Regions from separate parts of the Homo sapiens genome. Here region 2 is linked to region 1. A link means that fine-mapping ties the variant in region 1 to the expression of a gene that starts in the linked region. Tissue or cell type: whole blood. Region 1 holds a variant in brackets; the other region holds the start of a gene. All regions are shown on one strand. Distances are from middle to middle.

Region 1 (7,255 bases):
TGTGTTGGAGAATGTAAGAAATCTGGTGGCTCACGCCTGTAATCCCAGCTACTCAGGAGGCTGAGGTGGCCAGATCACCTGAGATCAGGAGTTCAAGACAAGCCTGGCCAACATGGTGAAACCCCGTCTCTACTAGGAATATAAAAATTAGTCAGGCGTGGCGGTGCAGGCTTATAATCCCAGCTACTCAAGAGGCTTAGGCAGGAGAATCACTTGAACCCAGGAGACGAAGGCTGCACTGAGCCGAGATTGTGCCACTACACTGCAGCCTGGGCGACAGAGACTTTTTTATCTCAAAAATAAAAAAATAAAAAAATTAGTCAGGCGTGGTGGCACATGCCTGTGGTCCCAGCTACTCGGGAGGCTGAGGCAGGAAAATCACTTGAACCCGGGAGACGGAGGTTGCAGTGAGCCAAGATGGCACCACTGCACTCCAGCCTGGGCAACAGAGCAATACTCTATCTCAAAACAAACAAACAAACAAACAAAAAAAAACACCTTCCTTAGGCCAGGTGTGGTGGCTCACACCTATAATCCCAGCACTTTGGGAGGCCGAGGCAGAAGGATTGCTTGAGCCCAGGAGTTCAAGACCATCCTGGGCAACACAGTGAGACCCCATTTCTTAAACAAACAAACAAACACCTTCTGGTATCCATAAAAGAATAAAAATAACTTGATATAATCCTTCCTATTAACAAAAAATCTAATAAAAGGTAAAATGAATGTATTACATAAGCGAGAGGACAAGGGCCAGAAACGAGAGACGGGTCTTTCCTTTCTGAGTTATCTAATGTTCCAAGGAAGCGGGAACAGGCAGAGCAAACAGAGAGAAAACGGCAACGCCGACTTCCCTAGCCTTGCTCTCGGGATGAAGCCCCTGCCAGACCCACCGTCAGGGGTGCCCACCACGGGCTCAGGTGCGCTGGGGCTGCTGAGGGCATCACCACTCAGCCCCTCCTTGAGGGCAGCTTCTGGGATGACGACGGCCATGGACGCTGCTTGTTTCTTGGAGGATGATGAAGATGTCTCTGAAGAGGTCGTGATGGAAGGCGGACTCCAACGGGGCACAAAGGTTATGCCTTCTTCTTCTAATTGGCGAAGGTAGTATTCGATGATTTCCTTTCCCTTTAAAACAAAACCAATTTAAAGGTGAGTATATATTCAACATTCAAATTACTCATCTCTCCCAAGATTTTTCTTTTTTTCTAGCCAACGGAAGATGGTGAGCCTCACAATCTTTTTTTTTTTTTGAGACAGGGTCTCGCTTTGTGGCCCAGGCTAAAGCACAGTGGCATGATCACAGCTCACTGTACCCTTGACCTCCTGGACTCAAGCCATCCTACCTCAGCCTCCCCAGTAGCTGGGACTACAGGTATATGCCACCTCATCCGGCTAATTTTTGTATTCTTTGTAAATACGGGGTTTCGCAATGTTGTCCAGGCTGGTCTCGAACTCTTGGGCTCGAGCAATCTGTCCACCTCAGCCTCCCAAAGTGCTGGGATTACAGGCATGAGCCAGTGCGCCCAGTCCCTCACAAGCTTTTAAAACACCAATAAAACTGAATTGCTACAAAATTAATAGAAAAAAAGAAAAGGCCAAATGCTTCTGTGTTTTTGTTTATTTTACTTGTTATTTTCCAAGGTTTAGGAAATGGTATCTAATGAGATGGAATTTTTATATGACTATTTTAAAATGCTGATTTAGGGTACTTGTACTCAATATATGATTTCTGTCTCAATTTCAATTCTTTCCAACACAGTACCCTGAAAATGAGCCTTCAAAAACCACTCCATAATCCCACACGGATAGATTTCAAAACCACAATTCCCTAACAACTGATGAACAACAGCACAAAAACGAGAAAGGAAGGTCTTCTGTGGAAGAACTGACAATCCAAGGGGGGCAGCCTGCTCGGCAAGCACCTCCCCAGGCCCCCAGGCCTCCTCCCAATCCTGCAGCAAGGCCTGGGGGCTGTGTGCCAGCTGCTGCTGCCTCTCCCCAACTTCTAACTCTCTCAGCAACTCCAGGCAGACAGTGCCATTGCTAGAGCTACAGGCACCTCCTTCCTCCATCAGCAACCAGCACAACCTCAACCCCTATACCTAAAGATGAGGCAGGGGGTAGGGATCATAGCATCTTCCACCCAAGAAATGCTGCAAATCCCTTGCTAAGCCATCCCCAGCCTTCCAAAAAGATGGTCATCTCAGAGACTCCTGCCCACCCTCTGCCACAAAATCCCAAGATACACTCACTTTTTTAATGTTGCTGGTATATTGTTTCATTGCAATTTTTTCCACTGTACTTTCAAAACCAAAGAAAGATTTAATATCTAAACTTGCAGACTGTTCAAAACAGGTCCAATCTTCATTTTCAGGGTGAACCTGCAGATAAAGAGAAAGCACTCTCACTGACTGAATTGACAACAGAATATCATCTGCCTGCTCCTCAGTTTAACCAGTAACCAGAAAAAAACACTTACGTTACTAACAATGCTACTACCATAAAGACAGCAGATGGAAAAAATGCCAAAATCATGTTCAAAATCAGGATCAAAAGCACATTCTAAATCATGAAGAGATCCAAATAATTGTTCAAAAACATTTCAAAGATGACTATAAAAGGAGAGCTTCATTTTCATTCTTGCTTCATTCATTCATTCAACATACTCACTGAACAGTCTTCTCCATCATGAACAAAGAGGTATTGGCCTTGGAAGCTTTCAACAGAGTCTAACAGAGGAGACAATCAGCCAGAAACACAGTATGCAAGGAAATTAAAGATAAGTAAGTGCTATGGAAAAAAGAAAACTTGGAGCACAGGCTAAAAGAACCAGGGATGGGGGTCAGGCATGATGGTTCACACCTGCAATCCCGACACTTTGGGAGGCCAAGGTGGGAGGATCACTTGAGTCCAGGAGTTTGAGACCAGCCTGGGCAACAGAGCAAGACCTCATCCCTACAAAAAAATTTAAAAACTAGCCAGGCACGGTGGCATGTGCCTATAGTCCCAGCTACTTGGGAGGCTGGGGCAGGAGGATCACTTGAGCCTGGGAGGTGGAGGCTGCAGTGAACTGATTGTTCCACTGCACTCCAGCCTGAGCGACAGGGCAAGATCCCATCCCTGAAGAAAAAAAAAAAAGCCTGGGGGTTGGGGAGTCAGGCTGCAGAATTAAATGGGTGGCTGGGGCTGGCCAAGAAGGGGTGACCTGAGCCGAGATGGGAGGAGGTGAGACTAGAGACGTAGGGAAGAATAGCACGGCACAG[C/G]GAGCACCTTGGAGCCAAAGCCCCTGGGGGAGGCCCACTGCATGACAGCAAGGACAGGAAAGGCGTAACCAGGAGAGAACTCAGGCCCTTGCAAGTCACCATAAAGACTATGGGCTCTTCCTCTGGGCGAACTGTGGAAACACTCCAGGGTTTTGAGCCCATAGAAGTGACTTAATCTGACATACTTTAAATAGATCACTTTGAATTCAGTGTTAAGGATACACTGCAGGGGAGAAGGGCAGAAATACAGCAATCTGTCAGGAGAGTATTCTAAAAATCTGATAAAAGAAGTTCTTGAAACAGGGTGGTAAGCAGTGAAGATACTGAGACAGACAAACACTCTCGGCACTATTCTTAAAGGCACACATCTTAGTCCTTCATTAGATATTTCTAACATATTACAGTAAGACCAGAAAAGAAGTGGCATATGAATGTAATATTTAAGGCCAGGCGTGGTGGCTCACGCCTGTAATCCCAGCATTTTGGGAGGACGAGGCAGACGGATCATGAGGTCAGGAGTTGGAGACCAGCCTGGCCAACATGGTGAAACCCTGTCTCTACTAAAAATACAAAAATTAGCCGGGCGTGGTGGCGAGTGCCTGTAATCCCAGCTACTTGGGAGGCTGGGGAATGAGAATAACTTGAACCTGGGAGGCAGAGGTTGCAGTGAGCTGAGACTGTGCCACTGCATTTCAGCCTTGGTGACAAGAGTGAGACTCCATCTCAAAAAAAAAAAAAATTAGGCCAAGGGGTGGATCACGTGAGGTCAGGAGTTCCAGACCAGCCAGGCCAACACGGTGAAACCCCATCTTTACTAAAAATACAAAAATCAGCCTGGCGTGGTGGCGCTTGCCTGTAATCCGAACTACTAGGGAGGCTGAGGCAGGAGAATCACTTGAACTCGGGAAGCAGAGGTTGCAGTGAGCCGAGATTGCACCACTGCACTCCGGCCTGGGCGACAGAGGGAGACTGTGTCTCAAAAAAGAAAAAAAAAACAAAACCAAATCAAGGCATCACTTGGCTGCCTTAACTGCCACGACAACATAATACACTCTGCAGGAGACCACACCTGCTACCCTTCCTCCTACACATGAGAAATGAGTGACAACATCTAATGAAGAACTGCCCTCTAAGACAAAAAGATGCACTGTTTAAAATGGTGATCAAACAATCCTCAGAAGCCATATGTCGGCAGAACATCTTCCGCCGAGTGACAGATTACTCACGGTGTAGCAGCAATGCTCATTAATGATGACCCGATTGGAAAACGTTTCATTATAAGCCTCAATGTGCAAAGTACGTTCCCGAGAATTCAGTGAGTTTTTCTGGACAAAATAAACATAATCAACTCCTGCAATCTTCAAAAAAAAAAGAAAGAGAAATGGGTTTATTAATAACAACCAATAGCACAGAAGCTATAGTATAAGTTCATGTTGTCTCTGGGGGCTGCCCTCCAGGACGCCCTCTCCCTCCAGGACGCCCTCTCCCTCCAGGATGCCCTCTCCCTCCAGGACGCCCTCTCCCACCAGGACGCCCTCTCCCACCAGGACGCCCTTTCCCTCCAAGACGTCCTTTCCGACCTTTACCTTCTTCAGCAGTCTGGGTGCATCTACATCCAGCTTGCAGCGCCTTTCAATGACATGAATAGCCCCATCTTCGCTCTTGAATTCATTCACAGTGTCACTGCCCACGAACATCGGAATCAAAGGACATGTAGGGAACCTCCTTTCATAGGCCTATAAATTTAAAAACCAAGAAAGCAGAAGTGAGCAAAGACACAACCTGATGTCCTGCCGCTGACTGTGTTCTCCCTGGAACAGCACCTCTCGGTGCACGGCAACAGGCAGCGCCACAACTGTCTTCACATCTGAAGCTTTCATTAAAGAAGAAAAAGACACTCCATGTCCATGGATCGGAAGATTCAACCTAGTAAAGATCTCAATTCTCCCCATAAGTAACATCATTCCTAACAAAACCCCAGCAAGACTTTGTGGTAATTATAGACAAGATTGTTTTAAAATTTATATGGAAAGACAAAGGAACTAGAACAACTAAAACGATTTTGAAAAAGATGAATAAACTGGGAAGAATCAGTCACCCCGGTATTAAGGCTTACTCTATAACTACAGTAATCAAGACCATCTAGTATTAGGAGAGGGGTAACTGACATACAGATCTATGGGACAAAATACAGAACCCAGAAATAGACTCAAACAAATACACCCAACTGATTTATTTTTTAGTATCTGCACCTGTCAGGGAACACCGACTGATTTTCAACAGAGATGTAAAAGCAATGAGGGAAAGAAAGCACGCCAGTCTTTTCAACATGTTACTGGAGCAATTACACATCCATAGGCTGAAACAATAATAACAATGAATCTTGATCTAAACCTCACACCTTGTATAAAAATTAACTCAAAGATCAGCGACTTAAATGTAAAACACAAAACTAAAACTTTTAGGGAAAAAAAATAGAAAATCTTTGGGATCCTGGGCTAGGCAAAGAATTCTTAGATGTGACAACAAAATCACAATCCACAGGAGAAAAAATATATAAAATGAACTTCCTCAAAGTTAAAAACATTTGCTCAGCGAAAGACCCTGTTAAGGCCGGGCGCGGTGGCTCACGCTTGTAATCTCAGCACTTTGGGAGTCTGAGGTGGGCAGATCATGAGGTCAGGAGATTGAGACCATCCAGGCTAACACGGTGAAACCCCGTCTCTACTAAAGATACAAAAAATTAGCCGGGCGTGGTGGCGGGCGCCTGTAGTTCCAGCTACTCAGGAGGCTGAGGCAGGAGAATGGCGTGAACCCAGAAAGCGGAGCTTGCAGTGAGCCGAGATCGCGCCACTGCACTCCAGCCTGGGCGACAGAGTGAGATTCCATCTCAAAACAAAACAAAACAAAACCCCTGTTAAGAGAATGAAAAAACAAACTACAAAATGGGAGGAGGGATTTACAAACCATGTATCTGACAAAGGACTAGTGCCTAGAATACATAAAAAATTCTTAAAACTCAACATAAATACAGTGAGCCAGGAGAACACTGGTTTGGACTGAGCTCCTGCACCAGGCCCAGCAGACCAAACCAAAATGGAGTCCCTCTTGGTAACCTCCATACCACCAAGCCAAAAGTAAGTTGTTTATCTGACTTTGCAAGAAGTCAGGAGAAAGAGAACAGCAAATCCCCCAAATGGGCCAGTTTGGGCCAGCGTGGTAAGGAAGTCCCCTCTGCGTTAACCTTTACAAGGGAAGTCACTCTGAAACCACCCATCTGCTCTCTGTTCTCTGTGTCTGTTTCCCTCACCCCTTTTCTGTCTACAAAGCCAGCTTCCCCTGCTCAGCTCATGAGAACACTCATTCTATTTCACAGAATTCTGTTTTATAGAATGAGGTGTTGCCTGATTCTGGAATCAAAAAAGCCAATTAAGATCCATACACTAAATTTTTTTGTAATTTTGTCTTTTGACACACAATTGAAATTTAAAAATGGTTAAGATGGTAAATTTCATGTGCTTTTACCATGATTAAAAAAAAAAAACAACTCAAGAGTTTTAAAAAGTCCAATTAGAAAATGTGCAAGAGACAGGAAGTGATATCTCACCTGAGAGGACACACAGATGGCAAATAAGCACACGAGAGATGTTCATTAGAGAAAAGGGCCATTAGGGAAATGCAAATTAAAATCACAAAGGAGTATCACTATACAACTATCAGAATGGCTAAAATAAAACACAGTGCTGGTTGGGATGTGGAAGAACTGAATCCCTTCCACATCATTGGCAGGAATGTAAAATGGTGCAACCACTCCAGAAAACAGGTATCTTCTTAAAACCTAAACATGCAACGGTATACAACCCAACAAATGCACTCCTGGGCATTTATCCCAGAGCAATGAGAGCTTATGTTCGCACAAAACCCCATATACAAACATTCATAGCAGCGTTACTCATAATAGAAACTGGAAACAACTCCGAGATGTCCTTCCT
Region 2 (7,255 bases), 52 kb after region 1:
CATTTGAATCGTGAGTAAAACTCCATCGCACAGTGCTCAGTTCTAACACCACCTAAAGTGAATTCACCCATAGGCAGAGCACTCTTCCACACGAGCAGCAAAGACCACACTCCATGTCCCTTTGCTACTCTAACGAAGGAAAAAAAGAGCACAACCCCGAGGAAGAAGTGCTTAGAATCCCACTTCTGTGTGTTCAAAGGGAGAATTAACTTCAATTCATACATTACCCTGAGGTGCATTTTTTTTAATAAGCAGATTTTTATTTTCAGAGGCTTGTATTTTAAAAACATTTTACACACTCTAGATACGGTTCATAAGCATAAAAACAGAGTAAGTTCAAGTGATGCCATGGAGACGAACAATAAATCTATAGATCATCAAATTCTAACACTGTACTTTATAAATAAGAAGCCAAAGAGTAAATTGAAATGTCAAGTACTTACAGCCATAATTAATTCAAAGGGGTATTTGTACACCCTCACTGGGGACTGGTATTTCTGCACCATGATTGCAATACAACAGCAACCCTCTCACACCTGCAAAACATAAATATATGTGATAAGTAACCACAATGCAGAAACAAATTATTAGTAAGTCTGCACTGACACATCATACCACACTCTAACGACAGAAAGAGACCACAATAGGTCATAATTCTATGCACACAAAAATGAAAAGATGATATTTAAATACATGAGGGCAGGGGGAGGTAATTAAACAATAAGAAAAAGCAGACAAAGCCCCAATGCAATGAGGCAAACAGTACTGGTGTGAGAGGGGTCCAATCCTCTCATTGGCTTACTGGGACTCTGCATTCATTACATGACCTGACCTGAGTCCTTTCCAGCAATGAACTGTTATGATTCTATTATTCTAATAACCAATATAATTAATGCTTGGATCATTTTCTCTTAAACAACTTCTACTAGAAGCCAAATAAAAATGATCTCGTGTTAAGATATTAGCTCTGGGAAAACAAAAATAAAACTGGAAAAAAATACTACTGTATCTCAAACTATGGAATACTCCTCAAAAGCTAGCTTCAAAGGAAACGTGTCAATTCCTATTTTCTAACTGTGTACACTACAGCTTTGGCGACCTGTCTTCGAGTGGCAGAGATGCCAAGTATTCTGGCTAAACAGGCTCCACTGAAATCTCTAGCCTCAGATAGCTAATATCCGTAAGTAATCGGTTAAATGTTCACACCTAATTCACAGTCAAGGAGCCCTCCTTATGGGTGCATAATCATTCTCTAGCGCCAGCCTACACGGATTGCTCTAAAAACACACCTGGACTTGCCAGTCCTCTGTCTCCCCTATTTAAAGTGAGAAAGAAAAATCGAATGAGCCTACCTGTCTTGTTGAGGATAATCATTAAGAATGGTACTTTATGCTGAACATGGTGAGAGGATATTCAAACATACAAAACTGAATATCCTCAAGGAGCCCGAAGTCTAGCTGTTAAAAAAAAAAGAGAGAGACAAATTACCAAGATGTATTTTATTTCAGAAACTTCCAAGATTCCTTTTTTTTTTTTTTTTTTTTTGAGACAGGGTGTCTCTCTGTTGCCCAAGGTGGAACACAGTGGCACAATCTCCACTCACTGCAGCCTCCACCTTCTAAGCTCAAGTGATCCTCCTGCCTCAGCCTCCCAAGTAGCTGGGACCACAGGCACGCACCACCATATATATTTTTTGTAGAAGGTTTCCCCATGTTGCCCAGGCTGGTCTCAAACTCCTGGGCTCAAGGGATCTGCCCACTTCAGCCTCCCAAAGTGCTAGGATTATAGTCATGAGTCACGGCGCCTGGTATAGAATTCCCATCTATAGTACTAAGGTTTAAACAGGTTTGGAACTTTCTCTGGTATGTCTGGCATACCTCTCAGAGGAGAGGTCATGGTGGAAAACATCGCCATCTGACAGTGTGAAAACGGCTAAGGAATGACTCTGGGTGACCACGAGTAAGCCATTTGACTTCCCTAGGACTCAGTTTCATCTCTGTAAAATGAGGTTTTCGGGGAGATGATCTTGAAAGACTTCCACCTCTAAAACCATGAGAATGAGAGCCAAACTCCCAAGTTCTCCAAACTCAACTTGAAGCTTTTCTAATATTCATCTTGATTATGCGACTGACACATCCTGATGTGCTGGGACCACGTTCTTTTTCTTTTGCAAACCTTACAGTGTTGGTGCACAGTGGGAATCCAATCATCTTTTAAAAATTTAATTGGGAATATTAATTTTAGGGTACTCTCCCAGATATGAGGACGATAACCGGGTACAAACAAGAGTTGGGGGAAGAAGCAAAAAAGCGTAATGCTCGTTTAAGAAACGGTAACATCCATTCAGGATTCCACCGCCTGGCAGAACTGGCTACACTCACTTAAGAACCTGCTAATTCACGAGCTTGTGAACCACAGCCAGGTCTCAGCTGCCGATGCTCTGGTCCAGATAAACGCCCTACGCGGGCATCCGGAGTGACAACGACCAAGTGGCATCCAGGAGCCGGACGGCCTCCATTGCATGACAATCGCTGTTTAAACAGGAGCCAAAGGCCAGACCCACTGAACGCATCCCGAGCAGGCTCGAGGGGCGGCCGGCGCCCGGGGCTGCTCAGCAGGGGTCCCGCGCGGCTGAGCCCCACGGGGCCAAAGCCCCGACCGACGGGAGAGAGGGGCGGGCACTGGCTCCGGACCCGAAACTCCGCTCTCAGCAAAAAGCGGCTCCCGGGAACTGGAAGCCTGGCGAGGTGGGGGTGGGGGCGGGGGAGGGGGGCGAGGGGCGGCGAGGGGCGAGCAGGGGGGCGGAGGGCGAGCAGGGGGGCGGGGGCACGGCCCGTTTCGGGTGCCGGGCCGATGGCAGCCGGGGCTGGGGAGGGACAGGCTCAGCAAGCGGGCGGCCGGGAGTTCCGGGGGGCCCGCCCGAGAGGCGCCGGACTCCACGGAGACCGGGACCGGGGCGAGGGCGCACTCGGACCCGCCGCGACGACGCGCCTACCTCTTGTCAGAAAGGCCGGGCCTGGGACACGGGGTGGCGAGGGGCGCTCATACCGGCGGCTCCGCGGGGCAGTCTCGGTTCCACTGCTCCGCGACCGTAGCTCGACCGCCGGTTCCGGGGAGGGGGCCGGGGAGGCGGGAGGGGGAAGGGGCGCGGCGACGGCACTTGTGGTTGTTACGGGTGACGGGGTGGGCGGGGCCGGGCGCCGGGAGGGGCGCGCGTGCGCGGCCGCGGCCGAGGGAGCGGGGGCGGGAGCGGGCGATGGTTGCTAAGAAAGGGGAGGGGGGAGGACACCCGGGGCCCGAACTGCGCAGGCGCGAGCTCCGACCCGCGAGCGTGGGAGGAGCTCGGAGAAGGCGCCGGCCCCGTCGCACTGCTGGATGTGCCCGAGGTCCTCGTGGCCCCTCCCAGTTTTGCGTCACTTGTTGGGGGCGGGGCCGGGCTGGGCTTCGCGAGTAGCGGGCGGAGGCGGAGTGAAGCCCCAAGGGGCTGCCGGCGTGCAGGGGAGGGGTTCGGCTGAGCGGGAAAAGGGAAGTTTGCGGGAGGTCAAAACCACCGGGGCCCTCCCGTATGGCTGCTGCTCTGAGGCCTGCCTCTGGTCGCCCTGGCGGCTGCCCCCGTGCTTCCTCATTTCTTGTTGACTGTTCAGGAGCACCAGGCTGCTCGCGCCAGTGCCCCGACCGCATTCTCGCCGAGTAATGGGGAGGAGGCGGACGCCGGTGCTGCGCGGCCCAGGGCTCGGGAGGGCCCGGGTGAGCCCGGGTGGAGCCCAGCGGCATCCTTGTCAACACATCCAGACGGCTCTAGTGTCGGGCCGCGGGCTTGAAACTGAGACGCGCGCCCAGGGCCTGCCCCTCGGAAACGAGGGTGCCAAGGTGGGGCTGCTAAGTAGCTCCCGAATTTCAGCAGGAGAGCACCGTCCAGCCCCAATTTTCAATCCGGTACCACTGAGACATTTTGGGGTCCTTAAGAGGAGCTCATGACTAGAAAGGGGCACCTCGCATGCCCACCCACACAGCAAAGCTGGTTTTATAACCAACATGCAATTTCACTGTCAAAGTCACTGTTGTTCCGTTCACATTAGTCACCCTGAGTGGCTGTACATTTCATGCTGCCATTGGACAGAACGTTTTTGGACCTGTTTAGGAATTTCCATCAAAGCCAGTTTACCAGACACACAAGCAAATCATTCATGGCCTCATCACCCCTTGTGTTCCACGTCAAACCATCATCTTCCAGCTGGGTCACCTACATTATTCACTACATTCAGTCTGACTGGCTTTTGCTTGTTTGTAGAAATCACATCCACCGGCCGGGCGCGGTGGCTCACGCCTGTAATCTCAGCACTTTGGGAGGCCGAGGTGGGCGGATCACGAGGTCAGGAGATCGAGACCATCCTGGCTAACACGGTGAAATCCCTGTCTCTACTAAAAATACAACAGATTAGCCGGGCGTGGTGGCGGGCGCCTGTAGTCCCAGCTACTTGGGAGTCTGAGGCAGGAGAATGGCGTGAACCCTGGAGGCAGAGCTTGCAGTGAGCCGAGATCGCGCCACTGCACCCCAGCCTGGTCGACAGAGCGAGACTCCGTCCCAAAAAAAAAAAAAAAAATCACATCCACCTTCAAAAGACGCTTTAACGCCGTTGCGGTGGCTCACGCCTGTAATCCCAACAGTCTGGGAGACCTAGGTGGGTGGATCACCTGAGGTCAGGAGTTTGAGACCATCCTGGTCAACACGGTGAGACCTCGTCTCCACTAAAAATACAAAAAGTAGCCGGGTGTGGTGCCAGATGCCTGTAATCCCAGCTACTTGGGAGGCTGAGGCAGGAGAATCACTTGAACCTGGGCAGAGGTTGCAGTGAGGCAAGATCACGCCACCTGCCCTGCACTCCAGCCTGGGCTGGACTCCAGCAAGACTCCGTGTCAAAAAAAAAAAAAAAAAAAAAAATTCACCTGACCTGCTGAACTTCTAGATGCAACCACCAGTTTACAGGAAATACAGAATAGAGGAACATGCTAAATGACACCATGAAAAACAATTGGCAAAGTACAGACTGTGGGAAACGGTACAAGACAAATATATTCTTTATCAAATTCCAAAGGAAAAAAAGAGGGGAATGGTCAATCTATAGATTAAAAGAGATTGGGAAATTTGTTGAGCCATACATTCATTTATGATTTGCAAGCTTTTATATGTATATTATACTTCAGTTAAACATTTTGAAGAAAAAACAGACTTGAGACATCAACCAATCACAAAAAACTTTATTTCCATTTTTTTTTTCTTGAAACAGTCTCACTCTGTTCCCCAGGCTTGAGGGCAGTGGCATAATCATAGCCGTCTGCAGCATCATCACCTGGCCTCAAGTGAACCTCCCACCTCAGCCTTCTGAGTAGCTGTGACTACAGGCATGTGCCACCACGCCTGGCTACTTTTTGCTATTTTTTTCCTTAGGTTTTTTTTGTTTTTTTGTTTGTTTGTTTGTTTTGAGATGGAGTCTTACTCTGTTGCCCAGGCTGGAGTGCAGTGGCACGATCTTGGCTCACTGCAACCTCCACCTCCTGGGTTCAAGTGATTCTCCTGCCCTCCTGCCTCAGCCTCCCGAGTAGCTGGGATTACAGGCGAGTGCCCAGCTAATTTTTTTATTTTTAGTAGAGACGGGCTTTCACCATGTTGGTCAGGCCGGTCTCAAACTCCTGACCTTGTGATCTGCCTGCCTCAGCCTCCCAGAGTGGTGGTATTACAGGAGTGAACCACAGCACCCTGCCCACCAACCTCCTACTTGCCTGGGGACTAGATTGCCTTTGTAGGACTAACATTAGCCACAAATTAGAAATTATGGTTTAGGAGTCATGCAGCTGGAGGCTACAAGATTCTGACCCTCCCTAAACTGCTCCTAAGATCAGTGCTTGAGACATTTTGCAGATCCTCCCCTTGATGGCTCAGCTGGCACCACCCAGATCAACAAACAGGCTCATCTGATCTTGTGGCCCCCGCCCAGGAACTGACTCAGCACAAGAAGACAGCTCCGACTCCCTATGATTTCCTCCCTGACCAATCAGCACTCCTGGCTCACTGGCCTCCCCCGACCCACCAAGTTGTCTTTAAAAACTCTGCTCCCTGAATGTTCAGGGAGACTGATTTGAGTAATAATAAAACTCCAATCTCCTGCACAGCCAGCTCTGTGTGAATGACTCTATTGCAATCCTCCTGTCCTGATGAATCAGCTCTCTCTAGGCAGCAGGGAAGGTGAACCCCTTGGGTGGTTATACTGTTATCCAGAGAAGGGGGTTATATGTAAAGATAAGCAATCTTTTGTTACAATAAATGCTTTTTCAGGAATTTGTTGAGGCAAACAGTGAAAGCACGTATTGGTTTACAGTCTAATATTCCTGAACAAGAATCTCCTGGATCAAATAGTAAGTCATGTTGACACAGAGATCTTAGGTCTCAGTCCTGATGGCTAAGCTGTGTGGATGCAGGTGGTCTTATTCCTCATGATCAGGAATGTAGGCCCTGAGATAGTCTGAACTCAAATCTCATGTTGAATTGTAATCCACAGTGTTGGAGGTCTGGCCTGGTGGGAGGCGTTTGGGTCATCAGATCCCTCATGAATGGCTTGGGCCATCCCCTTGGCCATAAGTGAGCTCTCTCTAAGTTCACATGAGATCTTCTCACTTAAAAATGGGTGGCACCTCCCCCTACTCTCTGGAGCTTCTGCCTGCTTTCACCATGTGACCTGCCTGTTCCCCCTTCTCTCCTTCCACCAAGACTAAAAGCTCCCTGAGGCTTCACCAGAAGCTAAGCAGATGCCAGCGCCATGCTTCCTGAACAGCCTGTGGAACCTCTTAAGCACTATTTGAACATATAATGATACTAAGAAATTACTGCTTTCTTGTGGCTGAGCGTGGTGGCTCACGCTTGTAATCCCAGCACTTTGGGAGGCCAAGGCAGGTGGATCCCCTGAGGTTGGGAGTTTAAGACCAACCTGACCAATATGGAGAAACCCCGTCTCTACTAAAAATACAAAATTAACCAGGCATGGTGGCACATGCCTATAATCCCAGCTACTCTGGAGGCTGAGGCAGGAGAATTGCTTGAACCTGGGAGGCAGAGGTTGCGGTGAGCCGAGACCGCACCATTGCACTCCAGCCTGGGCAACAAGAGCGAAACTCTGTCTCAAAAAAAAAAAAAAAGAAAGAAAAAGAAATTATTGCTTTCTCTTAAGAATGCCAATTAAACTTTTTTTCTTTATAAATT

What was found. PIP is the estimated chance that this variant, and not a neighbour inherited with it, causes the effect.
Region 2: SEC14L1 starts here. The variant in region 1 is fine-mapped to the expression of SEC14L1 in whole blood (TOPMed, PIP above 0.99).

The regions. Positions count from the first base shown.
Region 1 is chr17:77,188,547-77,195,801 of GRCh38, reverse strand. SEC14L1 (SEC14 like lipid binding 1) reads right to left here. Exons shown (of 17, transcript NM_001143998.2): 4 at 4,850-4,999; 5 at 4,490-4,621; 6 at 2,253-2,381; 7 at 891-1,125. Among named protein-coding and RNA genes, the nearest start is that of SEC14L1, 51 kb to the right of the region's middle. The variant C/G (reference allele first, on the strand shown) is at 3,264.
Region 2 is chr17:77,136,848-77,144,102 of GRCh38, reverse strand. It overlaps SEC14L1 (SEC14 like lipid binding 1), which reads right to left and starts at 3,134. Exons shown (of 17, transcript NM_001143998.2): 1 at 2,996-3,134; 2 at 1,353-1,457; 3 at 444-536. The coding sequence starts at 506. LOC105371901 (a long non-coding RNA gene) reads left to right here and starts at 2,664. Exons shown (of 5, transcript XR_934988.3): 1 at 2,664-2,747. RefSeq lists silencers at 2,362-2,656, 2,821-3,270, 3,281-3,490, 3,641-3,850.